2 separate regions of the Homo sapiens genome follow, and region 2 is reported to be linked to region 1. The links are microRNA targets in miRTarBase. Many come from high-throughput screens and were not tested one by one. Region 1 holds a microRNA gene; the other region holds the end of a gene's coding sequence.

Region 1 (7,118 bases):
GAGCTCCCAGTGAGCAGAGATCGCTCCACTGCACTCCAGCCTGGGCGACAGAGCAAGACTCCGTCTCCAAAAAAAAAAAAAAAAAAAAAAAGAGAATCAGCTGGGTAGAGGAGACGTACCTGACCATCTACCCCATGACATGTCCCATGCCCCAGGGAAAAAAATTCCCTAAACCATCTGATGCATAAAGTGAATGCATACACATTTTTTAAAAGGTGGGCCAGGATGCTCCTTAAACAAGTGTCTAAACCTTATCTGCATAAGGAGTCTTAACCTATCATTTTATGTTGCAAAGAAAACGTCTTTATATATCGCTTGTGCAATTAAAAATTGTAACCAAAAGTACTTGAAGATTATGAGGAGTTGACACCTCCACACACATGCATATCCCCTCCACCTTGGGCTCCTTGCTTATGGCCACCAATCCCTCACTAAGGGAGGATCCTGCCAGTTCTAAATGATGGGGACTACAAAAATTACCCGGCGTGGTAGCGCGTGCCTGTGGTCCCAGGAACTCAGGAGGGTGAGGCAGGAGGATGACTTGAGTCCAGCAGGTGGAGGCTGCAGTGACCTATGATCCCACCACTGCACTCCAGCCTGGGCTGCGGAGGGTAGGGAGGGAGGGAGGAGAAGAAAGAGAAAAGGCAGGGCACCATGGATGGCTGACTCCTGTAATCCCAGCACTTTGGGAGGCCGAGGTGGGTGGATCACTTGAGGTCAAGAGACCAGCCTGACAAACATGGTGAAACCCCGTTTCTACAAAAAAATACAAAAATTAGCCAGGCATGGTGGCGCACACCTGTAGTCCCAGCTATTTGGGGAAGCTGAGGCATGAGGATTGCTTGAACCCGGGAGCCAGAGGTTGCAGTGAGCCGAGATCGTGCCACTGAACTCCAGCCTGGGTGACAGAGCAAGACTGTCTCAAAAAAAAAAAAATCATTTAGGTGAAGTGATTCATGCCTGTAATTACAGTGATGGGAGGCTGAGACTGGAAGATCCTTGAGCCTGGGAGTTATAGGCCAGCCTGAGCAACATAGTGAGACCCCCATCTCTACAAAAAAAAATTAAATTTTTTTTTTTCAGACGGAGTTTCACTCTTGTGGCCCAGGCTGGAGTGCAATGGTGTGATCTCAGCTCACTGCAACCTCTGCCTTCCAGGTTCAAGTGAGTCTCCTGCCTCAGCCTCCCAAGTAGCTGAGATTACAGGCACATGCCACCATGCCTGGCTAATTTTGTATAAAAATTTAAAAAATTTTAAAATTAGACAAGTTAGAAATTGCTTGAGCAACTGGACACAATCTCTGGTACTACCTTTCTTTTTCTTTTTTATTTTTTTATTTTATTATTATTATTTCTTGAGAAGGAGTCTCGCTCTGTCGCCCAGGCTAGAGTGCAGTGGCGCAATCTTGGCTCACTGCAAGCTCTGCCTCCCGGGTTCAAGCCATTCTCCCGCCTCAGCCTCCCGAGTAGCTGGGATTACAGGCGCCCGCCACCAAGCCCGGCTAATTTTGTTTTTTGTATTTTTAGTGGAGACAGGGTTTCACCGTGTTAGCCAGGATGGTCTCAATCTCCTGACCTCGTGATCCACCCGCCTCGGCCTCCCAAAGTGATGGGATTACAGGCGTGAGCCACCGCGCCTGGCCCTCTTTTTCTTTATTGGTCAAAATATTATCCAACTAGGCATATGGATGTGGAGGCATGCCTGTGATCCCAATTACTTGGGAGGCTGAGGTGGGAGAATCGCTTGAGCCCACGAGTTTCAGGCTGTGGTGAGCCATAATGGTGCCGCTGCACTCCAGCCTGGGCAACAGGATGAGACCATTTCTTAAGGGGACGGAAAAAATCACTCTGGCTGTGGCAGATTTCCTTAGGATAGATTCCGAGAAGTGGAGTTATTGGGGAAAAGGCTGTTAATGATTTTAAGTCTTTGGATACAGACTGTTAAGTTGCTTTCCAGGAAGTTTCTGCCAATGATAGTCTGATACTTTCTGTGTCCTCACACCACCCTTTGTCAACACTGAGTGTTTTTTGAGGGTTAATTATTTCTATGGGAGAAGTTAAAAAAAAAAAAAAGACAACAAAGAAATTGCTTCAGGTGGGGCATGCTGGCTCACGCCTGTAATCCCAGCACTTTGGGAGGCTGAGATGAGAGAATCACTTAAGCCTAGGAGGTGGAGGTTGCAGTGAGCCTAGATCGTGCCACTACACTCCAGCCTGGGCAACAGAGTGAGACTCCATTTCAATAAAATTAATCAAATGAATCAAACGTGAGCAACTCTCATAACTTCCAACATTTTTTTCTTCTTCCTGTTGGTGGTTCTGCCTCTCTGGCTCCATTAGGATTTCCCTACTCCATTTCAGTCATGGGAACCGAGTTTCTGTTCCTGAAACACACCAAGCCTTTCTGGCCTCTGGATTTTTGTACTTGCTGTTCCCGCCATCTGGAATGCCTTCCCTGCATTTGTTCCCATCAGGGTTGGGACTAGCAAAGTGACAGGGGATGGAGTTGCTGAGGGTGCAAAATTTAAGGAGGCACCTACTCCCAGGGTCATGCAAAAGCCAACTTTGCATTTGCACAATCCTGTGAGTGAGTCCCTCCTTAAATTTGAGGCTGTACTGTAATCCCAGCTACTCAGGAAGCTGGGGCAGGAGAATTGCTTGAACCTGGGAGGCAGAGGTTGCAGTGGGCCGAGATCCTGCCTTTGCACTCCAGCCTGGGCAACAGGGCGAGAATCCGTCTAAAAAAATGAGGCTCTAGACACCACATTTGCCCTACTCTGGCCCCTGCCCTGATTTTCCTGGCCTGTCTCATCTCCAGACAGGTTTGCTTTGACCTCCCTGCCCATAAAAGTTGGCCAGTGCCCTTTCCAGGTACTCTGTCATATACCCTATTTCTTTCCTTGGTAGTACCCAGCACCATCTGCAAGTATTGGGTTTCTTTGCACATTTAGCATCTGTCCAACCCTTAGGATATCAGCTTTGCAAGAGCAAAGGTCACGTCTATCTCAGCCTACCTCCTCCATACTCAGCACACAGCACAGCACCTGACCATAGGAAGCACGCAAGAAATGGGAGGAATGAAATGGAAATTATCTAAAATAAGGATCAAGATTGATACAGAAGTATTCATCTCAGCTTTACTTATTAATAGCAAAACAAAAACAAAACACCTGGATATTATACTAATTCTCAACAATAGGAAACTGATTAGGATGCAGTACATTCAGAGCTGAAATTTTCTGCAGCCATTACAAATTACATTTGTGAAGATTTTTTTTTTTTTTTTTTTTTTTTTTTTTGAGACGGAGTTCTGCTCTTGTTGCCCAGGCTGGAGGGCAATGTCTCGATCTCGGCTCACTGCACCCTCCGCCTCCTGGGTTCAAGCAATTGGTCTGTCATTTTCAGACCCAACAGAAACAGAGGTGCTCCTGCCAGGCCCCCGGGGACTGCCTCCAGGAGTCATTTGTAATGACAGGGTGCGTTCTGCGCACAGTTTCAGAGTCTGTCCAAAGGGCCAATGCTGGGGCTGGGCAGAAACGATCCAAGGCCTGTGAGCTGTGCAGCTTTATAGGCAAATGAAGATCGTTTACCCAGAATTGCCTGCTGGAGACAGCATAGAGGAAGTGGCGGCAACTTCACCAGTTCCAGGAAGCCCAGGCAGCCTGGTCCCCCAGGGTGCACCTGGCACAGCAGTTCGCATGGGGCCAGAGAGCGGCAGCTGACCGCTGCAACTACAGCTGGCCTGACACCGGGCACAGGTACCAGCCCAGCCCAGTCCCGCCCAGCGCAGCCTGCGGCCCCTAGCCGAACCAGCACCTGGCAAACCTGACACCCAGCCTTGGAGCTTGGGCCCCCCTCTGCAGCTGGCTGGGGCTCCTGAGACAGCTTCTTTGTCGGAATCCACTCAGTACACACACGGTCCCAAACTTAGTGGCTGCCCAGTGAACATGGGGCTTAGTAGAACCAGTACCTTCCTCCCTGGCCCCTTCAAGTCTAAATATCCCCTGCTCTGAGTACAAGCCTCCACCTTCTCCACTGATAGACAGCCCCCACCATCTCCACCGACAGACAGCCCCCACCTTCTCCACCGACAGACAGCCCCCGCCATCTTCACCGACAGACAGCCCCCACCATCTCCACCGGCAGACAGCCCCCACCATCTCCACTGACAGACAGCCCCCACCTTCTCCACCGACAGACAGCCCCCACCATCTTCACCGACAGACAGCCCCCACCATCTCCACCAATAGACAGCGCCCACCTTCTCCACTGATAGACAGCCCCCACCATCTCCCGTGTCATCCCCTGGGGGGACTTGTAAAAGCAGTGGTCGGGGAGCGGGATGGAAACCCAGAGCTTCTGATCAGGCAGGTCGGGGGAGAGGGAGACAACACATCTGCACAGAACAAGGTCCCAGGGAGGCCGGCGCTGCTGGTCCAGGGAGCACCCCCCAGCACAGGCGCGTGCTTCCCTGATGGACACGTCACCACCCCTGGGCTCCAGAAAATGAATGTCTGACCCAGTGACCCCTGTCCTCACCCAAGGCCAACCTCACCCCAGAATGGGCTGGAATGCTGAGCCTGCCCATGCCAGCTCCAGATCCACCCACCTCCCCACCATTGCTGGCCACAGAGAGAGGTCAAAGTGGTCCAGAAACCCCAAGGAAAATGAAGCAGTTCCGGGGCAGGGAAGCAAAGGCAGTGTTTCCATTTTTTTTTTTTTTTTTTTTTTTTTTTTTTGAGACAAAGTCTCGCTCTTGTCGCCCAGGCTGGAGTGCAATGGTGCGATCTTGGCTCACTGCAACCTCCACCTCCTGAGTTCAAGCCATTCTCTCACCTCTACCTCCCGAGTAGCTGCAGCCTCTGCCTCCGGGGATCAAGTGATTCTCCTGCCCCCTGCCTCAGCCTCCTGCCTCAGTAGCTGGGATTACCGACACCTGCCACCACGCCCGCCTAATTTTTGTATTTTTAGTAGAGACAAGGGTTCACCATGTTGGCCGGGCTGGTCTCGAACTCCTGACCTCAGGCGATCCGCCAACCTTGGCCTCCCGAAGTGTTGGGATTACAGGCGTGAGCCACCGTGCCTGGCCAGGATGGTCTGCTTATAATGGCTCAATTTTGATGTCCAGTCTCTGCAGAGCACAAGGCCCCCGCTTTGGGCCAGACATACAGATGTCCCTGGGCAAGAACAGAGATGATCCCAAGGCCCTGGCCCCACCTGTCTGCTCAGTGTTGAATCAGGTTTCTGTGAAAACAAATTACTAACAGGCTGGTGTCACATTTTCAAATTCTGTCACCAGCCGTTGAACACATGTCTTTGTACTTTTTTCCATTTTTAACCGGGGCTGAGTTACGCCCAACCACACTGTCCTGGCTGGCACGGGGGAGGAGGTGTCAGCTGCTGTCCAGAATGGGGCTGACACATTCATTTTAAACAGGCCAGGAAGATGCAGATTTGGCAAGCTCTGAAATTTGCCGACACCCCAAGTCAAGGGTAAGCAGGAGAACCGGAAAAGGGCAGCTTCTCATGTAGTCAGGTTCTCCTGATGCAAGCGTCCTGGTGGATTTGGGTTTCCCAAGGGTCCTGACTCCAGGAGACCCCCAGGACCGACAGGAAGGGCCACCCCTCCCTCTGAAACTCTGAAGCCAGGCCACCCAGTGCTGAAATGCTGTGTGAACTCGGGCAAGTTCCTTTGCAGGGACTGAGCCTCCCTTTCATGTCTCCAACAGACTGGAACACTGCCTCCCGTTGCATGGGCGAAATACCTCGCGGACATGTCTTACGGCGCCCCATGAAAGCATCACCATTAATCTGACCAGTCACTGCAGCATGAGTATCTTCAGGGCACAGATGAAGCCATGGGCACCAGTGATAAGGAGTTGCCACTGCTGGCTAAGTGCGGAGCCTCACACATCTGTGGCCCAGAAACCCATACCCCACTCCAAACCCTCTATAGCTCCAACAGTTATGCTAACAAGAAAAAGGAGTGAAAACCCGCTCCAGTCACGGTATTGTGGAGGTGGAAGGACACTTGTGGCAGCCAATCCAACACCTCCATTTTATAGCTGGGGTAAACATAGTTCAGAGAGGTTGTCCCACTTGCTGAAAGTCACACAGCAGTTCCTGGGCGGCAAAGTGAGGACATCCAGGTCTCCTAAATCTCACCCTCGTGCTCTGCCCACTTAACTAGGCTTTTCAATCCTGGCTGTCAAAGAGAAGCACCAAGTCCACTTGGGCTCCTGGCCAGCATCCAGGCCAGTCCAACTCAACAGCAAGCGGAAGCAAATACCACACAATGAACTTGTTGAACAGACTCTGTGCTCAGGCTTAACCAGTGCACAGCCTGTACACCCGACAGGCGGATGCAGCTGTTCCAAACTAAGGCCAGGGCCTCTCCCCAATCCCGATGGGCTCTGCAGGTGCAGTGATGGAAGAATCCCTGGTGACGGGGAGCCCTTAGCTCTGAGCAGGACCTGAAGCCATCTCAGGGCTTGCACCGGTCCAGATGCTGCTGCACAAGTGCTCCAGGGGCTCCTGCCCTGCCCTCCTCACTTGCCCCCTCACCTGTCAGGGATGTTTGATTCCTGGCTGGCCCCTCCCCTACCTGACCCCTGCCAAAGACCTACGCCACCCCAGGCTCCCAGCTCTGAAGCAAACAACCAGAGAAGTCAAGCGCCTGGCTCCGGGCCACACAGCTTGAGGGACTCAGAGCTCCAGGGACAGTGCCCGGGCCCTGCTCAGGCCTTCTGCAGAGGCTCTGGGCTCTTCCAGTTGACTCAGCTCACAGGGCCCCTACACAGTACCAGGTGAAGACACAGCCCCAAGAACCCTCAGGGTCTGAAGCCACACATGTGAGCCGTGGGCAGAATCCTGCATTGGCCTCCAGCAGCTCGAGAGCACAGGGACAAAGCTGGACTGGCCCCGGGGTCACCGTGGCCTTGGTTTTGTAGCAGCTGCAGTTTGAGCACGTACACCAAAAATAAAATTCTAAGCCCCGTAACTGACTGAAGGGACCACTCCTATTGGCCAAAGGGATATTCCAAAGTTAACCTGAAAAACGAGCTCAGGTCATGATGGGAAGAGGGGTCACACAGGCCTTGTTATACCCCCTCCCTCTG
Region 2 (7,118 bases), not on the chromosome of region 1:
TTAGCTTACTTGCTCATTTGATTCTATTTTGTTTGAAATGTATTTTACCCTGTGTAAGTGCTTTATTCTTTTCTTTGTAGGTTCTGGGTCCCTCCGAGCAAAATTTGATCTTTCAGAAGGACCTAGTAAACCCACGACACTTGCAGTACAATTCCTCAGCGAGGGAAGTACCCTTTCAGGAGTAGATTTCGAACTTGTGGGCACTGGCTATAGGCTTTCCTTAATAAAGAAGCGGTTTGCTACTGGTAAGTTAGGAGATTTCAAACTTTTTAATGTACATGGGAAACATTTGTATTCTAACAGTTATTAAAAAACTGTCAAGCAATTTATAATCTAAAGACATGGAAATTTTTTCTTTAACCCTTGGTACAAGGTGCCAGGTAGAGACACACCTGGGAGAGAGTTCTTACGGTCAGTATAGCTGAACACCTGTTATCTGATTCTAATGTACTGTAAATAGCAGATGGGAACTAGAGTTTTGTATTGGTAACCACAGTGGAAAATGTCCTTAGAGTGCATTTGAAATTGTAATTGCAAAGGTCTGCTTGGCGTTTTTCAGGACGATACCTGGCGGATTGTTGATGGACCTGGGAAAGTGATGTGGCTTCAGGGATTACAAACCTGCCATTCTGCATTATCTGTTCTTTCCAAACACTATTTTAACTTGTATGATGTCTTTCAAACTTAGACATATTTGAGAGCTGACTACAAACATTAAATCGCACTTTTAAAGTGAGTCATTGAAATAAATAGTACTGAAATGATTCTCTATGTTGTAAATGATCAACTACAATATTCAGGAAGCACATTTATTCAGATTCTCAGTAAAAATGAAGTTTTTGTAGGATTAATTTTTAAATTATTTCCAGTGTCTATGTTGAAAAAAAGGGTTATAGTGTAATATCAGGCCTAAAGTTTCAGAAGAGCAAGCACAAAGTAATTTAGCTTTCCATACATTTTTAGAGTCAGAGATAACTTTGAAATTTCATAAGTTTGATATTCAGTGGATACAAATAGAACATGAATTCTAAGTTTTGGGTAATGTTAACTCAGAACACTTAATCAAATTGAGCTATGTGCCATAAGGTAATCAGACCAGAGTCCAAGTTGTATGCAAAAAATCTATAATTTGATTCTCATAAACATATTAATAAAGTATAAGTGATGTTTTATATGATTTTTAAAAAAAATTCTCAAGTGCAATGTGTTTTAAAATAAGCTTGCAAATGACAGCAGAGACATTTACTTCTGCAGTTAGTTAACTTTATAGGAGTTGTGATTTTTTTGATGAATTAATGCTGTAGATTTAATTTATTTTTATATGGAATTGCATAATGTGTGCCTTTTAAAACAATAACAAAAACCAGAGATGTGCCTATACAATTTGTGTTCATTAATGTGCCTCACTTTTTTTCTCAGTCTGAATCTTCTGTTCAGAATCTTACAGTGATCAAGCATTTTTATAAGATATTTGCAATTTTTGTAAATATTTTTGGCCTGCAACTGGGAAGGGGATTCAGAGTCATAAAGCCTAACTTAAGAATCCTGGCTCACTTCTTTGGTGATACACTGTAGCCACTAGAAAGAGAAATAAACCCAATGGCATGTGTTTACAGGAAGAAAGATTACCTTCAGATACTTGACATTAACCTCATCAAAAGTGTGTGAATTTTAAAACAAATTCTAAAAAAACTATAGTGCTAAATTGGTAACTGGTATTTTAACTCTCAATTTAGCATTTTCCTTGATACTTTATCATTGAAAATTTATGCATTTATTTACTGATTGTGTTGTGAACATGAGTTTTATGGTATTTTGTGAGGGATGCATTTTTTAAAAGATTAATTTTGGAAACAGAAGGAGAAGCACTGCCATTTGTTTTTATTTCAACAATTGGAAAAATTACCAATTTGTACATTTTAATTATTCAATTTCTACTTTGTAAAAATAGGGAAATTATTTGAAGTGATATATTTGGTTAAACATTTCTAAAAATAAACTACCAATACTAAATAGTAAGAAACCTAACTTTAGTAGCAAATCTTGATTAATTGAAGAAATAAAATATTTCGGATAAGGTTTCATAATTTACAAATGGGAATTTCATTTATAATAATAAATATGAGTGTCCTTTATTTGCCTAGTAGAAGTGATAAATTGTGTTATATATGATAATTTATATAAAACCACTAATTGTTCCGTTAAGCTTCACAGAAAATAAAACCTCTATTACTAGACATTTATGTAACATCTTGCTGTACTAAATACAGCAGAAAATCTACTCTTTAGCAATATATAACACAGTATATGCTTTTTTATATATTCAATGTTAGCCCAAGTCTGAATTTACATTTGACTAAAGCAGCACATAAGATAATTTGCTAAAATGCTAATCTTTACTAAATAGTGAGCTAAATTAGAATTTCTAACTCTTATATTGTGCTCTTTTAAATGCCAATTACAGTCCCTTACTGGAATTCTAACTGTAATTTGCTTTGCAATCAAACTGCTTTTAGGGCAGCCAATATTTTATTATTGGAATTCAGACACTGTTCTTACCGTGTTTGTTTTTAATCAAATATTACCTAAAAATGTACAAATTAGTGAAATGGTTAAACTTCTGCACTTTCTTAGTTACCACAGTCTTCATACCAAGTATTGGGTACAGGTTACAATTTTGAAGCCATATGAGTTTATATTGATTTTTTTTTTCCATTTAAAAATCCACTAATGGTGTAAAAGAGACCAGTAGATTTTCAATGGGAAATGTACCTAGCAAGCTGGTTCTTGCTTATATATAGTGATAAACTTTGTAGCTGCCTCTTTAACCAAGAATTTGTAAACACAACTCTAATAAATGTGAGTTTTAAAGGATTGTTATTTACTACTTTGGATTGTAATTAGAACAATGCACATCTGTCTTCCAAGATTTTGTAAATATTTTTGATTTTTTTCATTAAATGTAAATTTTACATAAAAGTTGTGCTCTTAATAAACATGTAATATATAATTTATCAATTGGTTTATGTGTCTTTGTACTTGATAGTAATAGCTATATCATAATGTTAGGACAAGGCAAGCTGGCCAAGTAATTGGTTTTTAACTTTGTACTACTGTTTGAACAGGCGTACAGATCGAACTGTTATTTATTGGTTATATAGAAAGCTTCATTTGGAGTATATCCCAAAGTGTCAAAATTGTTTAACAAGGGATTATTTTTAATATATTTTAAGATATATTTAAATTGATGTTAAATTTTTGCAGACTTTCTTCCTAACCAGTTGCTCAGGAACACAGTCTCAGACAGTTCAAAAATCATAATGTTCCAAAGAATTAGTTAAGACAATCAAGCCTCCCAAAATGGTAAATTTAGGAAGGAGCAAAAGAAGGAAATTAGAAAAGAAAGAATTTATCCTAACTATTGAAAATTTTGGGCTGGGTGCAGTGGCGCATTACTGTAATCCCAGCACTTTGGAAGGTCGAGGTGGGCAGACCACATGAGGTCAGGAGTTCGAGATCAGCCTGGCCAACATGGTGAAACCCCAACTCTACCAAAAAATATAAAAATTAGCTGGGCATGGTGACGTATGCCTGTAGTCCCAGCTACTCGGGATGCTGAGGTAGGAGAAGTGCTTGAACACGGGAGGTGGAGGTTGCCGTGAGCCAAGATTGTGCCAGAGCACTCCAGCCTGGGTGACCAAGTGAGACCCTGTCTGAAAAAAAGAAAAAATGTTGCCAATCTGTGTTAAAAAAGGAACAGCTTAATTTATCTAGGTAGGCCAGGGCAGAGGAACCTGTGGAAAGATCTGATAGCACTCACCATTCATACCATATGCCCATCGTTTTCTTCCTTTTTCCTCTTCATCCCATTCCCACCTCTGTTAGACTAAATGATGCTAGCTGCTGCAATAGCTAAGCACAATACTTACTACATTGCTCTTATCACAGTCATAAGTAGGTTTGAGGAGGAGTTCTGCTCCATATAGTAATTCAGGGGCCCAGGCTCTTCCCATTCTGTGATTCTGCTTAAAATCTTCATTTGGCCGGCAGATGAAGAAAAAGCAAAGATTAGATGGGAGTTTTTATGGGCCAGGCCCAGAAGAATTGGCATCATCACTTCTGACCATATTCCATGAGCCAGGATTTGATCTTGTGGCTCCAACCAACTGCAAAAAAAGATGGGAAATGTAGTTTGGTTATGTGCCCAGGAAGAAAACGGGGTTTTGATAAACACAGAGTAAACCTCTGCCATGTACCCCACCCCTGCTCCATTTTGTTATTTTCTTTGTTCCTTTTTCCTAATGTGCATTTAATGGTTTCAGTGGCTCTCAGTATTAAAGGTTTTTTCCATGATTTCTTACTGTATGTAGCTATTTTATCCATATTTTTAAATATATATAATTATTTCCATACGCCTCCTAATGATCGTTTCTGAATGAACATTTGTGATAACTCAGAAACCACTGCTTATCTTTTTAGCATGAGTGTTTTATCTGTCAGTAATGTTTTTAGCCTCAAGTAACAGAAACAGAACTAAGAATGGTTTAAACCAGCAGTACCAACCTTTTTGGCACCAGGGACCAGTTTTGTGGAAGACAATTTTTCCATGGATGAAGCGGTGTGGGGAGATAGTTTCAGGATGAAACTGTTCCACTCAGATCATCAGTCATTAGTTAGATTCTCATAAGGAGCGTACAACTTAGATCCCTCACATGCGCAATTCACCATAGGACTTCCGTTCCTGTGAGAATCTAATGCTGCCGCCGATCTGACAGGAGGCAGAGCTCAGGCAGTAATGCTTGCTCACCTGCTGCTCACCTCCTGCTGTGCAACGTGGTTCCTAACAGGCCACAGATCACTACCAGTCTGTGGTCTGGGGTTGGGGTCCCCTGGTTTAAACATTTTTTTCATATCACAGCTCAAGTTACCTCTTGTTGGCATTGGTCAGAACAAGTCATTCGCCCTTTCTTTACGGTTGGAGTATGGCAGCCATAGCTCCAGACTGTATGTGTTTACATCCACAGCTAGGAGGGACAGTTCCAGTATGTCTGTCTTTTTTTTGTACGAAGAGTAAAAGTTTTTCCAGAAGCTCCCAGCTCGTATCTGTTTACGTTCTGTTGGCCTGAATTATGTAAGACAGGCAGAGAAAACAAGTAGCCTTCATAATGAAGGTGGGTAAAGGAGAAGGGCCTAGGAATGGCTGGAAGTAAGCTGGCCAGCAATCAGACACAGAATTTCTGCTGGTACAGGCATGTTTCCATATAGCATATTGCCAAGCAAGTCTGCACCTATCCCAATCAACTTTTTAACCCATTTTTTAAATAGTGTGAACTCAGCAATGAGCAGGATGAACTTAATTAAGTATTCAACTTTTTAGGAACAGTAAACTGGTATAATCTTTCTGACGATTTGAATCCAAAGGCTTTAAAATTTTTTTTTAATCTATGTATCATGTAAACTAGTCATTCACTTGGGAATTTGTCCTAAGAAAATAATGAGACATAAGCAAAATTATGTATGCAAAGATGTTTATTGCAACATTGTTTATAGTATGCAAAATTGAGAGGGTTGGCTGAGTTGATAACTCCCATATAGTGATACACTATGCGGCTTTTAAAAATAATTGTGAAGATCCACAGTCACTGATATTGAGATATTACCACAATATTATTAAATGGTAAAAGGTAATATGCCATTTTTGTTTTTAAAAGTGCATACATCAGGCCAGACGCAGTGGCTCACGCCTGTAATCCCAGCACTTTGGGAGGCCGAGGCGGGCAGGTCATTTGAGGTCACAAGTTCAAGACCAGCCTGGCCAACATGGTGAAACCCCATCTCTACCAAAAATACAAAAATTAGCCAGGCATGGTGGCGCATGCCTATAATCCCAGTTACTTGGGAGGCTGAGGTGAGGCAGGAGAATCACTTGAACCCACGAGATGGAGGCTGCAGTGAGCCGAGATCGCACCACTGCATTCCAGCCTGGGTGACAGAGTGAGGAAAAAAAAAAAAAAAGCATACATCTAGAGCAAAACTTTTTGCAAAAGCATTCACCAAGCCGTTATAATCTATAGGTGGTGGGATTTTTATTTTTAACAATATGTTAGGTGTTATCTAAATTTTTTTATAATTAGTACATATTACATCTACAATTATAAACTAACTATGTTTTGGAAAATAGTTGCATAGAGTGCAAGTTGAACTTTCTGTTGATGCACAAAGATCTCTTCACATAAGGATCTTCCTATTTTGATTATTGCCTTGCCTTACGTGGTCCTACCAATATAGCCAGGTTTTTTGTTTGTTTTGTTTTGTTTTGTTTGTTAACGTATGAAGTAGATTGCTGATCTAATTTTTATTCTTTTTGGTCTCAAAGCCAAATGTCATATTTTGTTTTCCCTAAGTGGATACAGGATCAGTTTGTTTTTTTTTTCTGGGAATATATTTTGCCCAAATTACTCTCTTAAGAAAAGTGTCGGCCGGGTGCGGTAGCTCACGCCTGTAATTCTAGCACTCTGGGAAGCTGAGGTGGGCGGATTGCCGGAGCTCAGGAGTTCAAAACCAGCCTCGCCAACATGGAGAAACCCTTTCTCTACTAAAAATACAAAAAACTAGCTGGGTGTGGTGACACATGCCTGTAGTCCCAGCTACTCCCAAGGCTGAGGCATGAGTCACTTTCACTCAGGAGGTGGAGGTTGCAGTGAGCCAAGATCATGCCACTTCACTACAGACTGGGTGACAGAACAAGGCTCTGTCTCAAAGAAAAAAAAATGTGATCCAGAGAAGTGACAGAGGTTAGCCTTTGGCAAAATTAAGAGCCTTTTAAGTTCAGAACCTTAATGTCATCACATACTCAATGAATAGTGACTGTTTACACCATTGAAATTCCCAAAAAGAGTAACCTAAAGAGTGATGAGCTTGCAACAAAGATTAGGTTATTTGGTTTTTCCACCTTCTGTCAATAAAATATTTCCATTAGTTGGGGAACTTATGGAGTGAATTTCAAATTGTTCAGGAAGTGTAAAGGCATACTTTGAAACCATCTTCATGCTATTTGCATGAAGCATGTTTCAGTATGACAGGCAACCAGGGTACCTGCTTGAGGTAAGGTGACCTTT

Evidence for each region. The annotated mature microRNA hsa-miR-3680-5p reads GACUCACUCACAGGAUUGUGCA and lies in region 1 at 2,573-2,594, opposite strand. An mRNA with a match to its seed (bases 2 to 7 or 8) in the 3' UTR can be bound and repressed. Matches are read on the target gene's strand: a 7mer-m8 pairs with bases 2 to 8, a 7mer-A1 pairs with bases 2 to 7 and ends in A, and an 8mer does both.
Region 2: miRTarBase lists FCHO2 as a target of hsa-miR-3680-5p. Seed matches in the 3' UTR shown: 7mer-m8 at 732-738.

Annotation. Positions count from the first base shown.
Region 1 is chr16:29,596,659-29,603,776 of GRCh38, forward strand. It overlaps MIR3680-2 (microRNA 3680-2), which reads right to left and starts at 2,607; the gene lies at 2,521-2,607. LOC105371168 (a long non-coding RNA gene) reads left to right here and starts at 1,133. Exons shown (of 2, transcript XR_950984.3): 1 at 1,133-1,164; 2 at 5,730-6,997. It also overlaps the pseudogene SMG1P2.
Region 2 is chr5:73,087,509-73,094,626 of GRCh38, forward strand. FCHO2 (FCH and mu domain containing endocytic adaptor 2) reads left to right here. Exons shown (of 26, transcript NM_138782.3): 25 at 81-245; 26 at 560-3,014. The coding sequence ends at 582. Among named protein-coding and RNA genes, the nearest start is that of TMEM171, 30 kb to the right of the region's middle.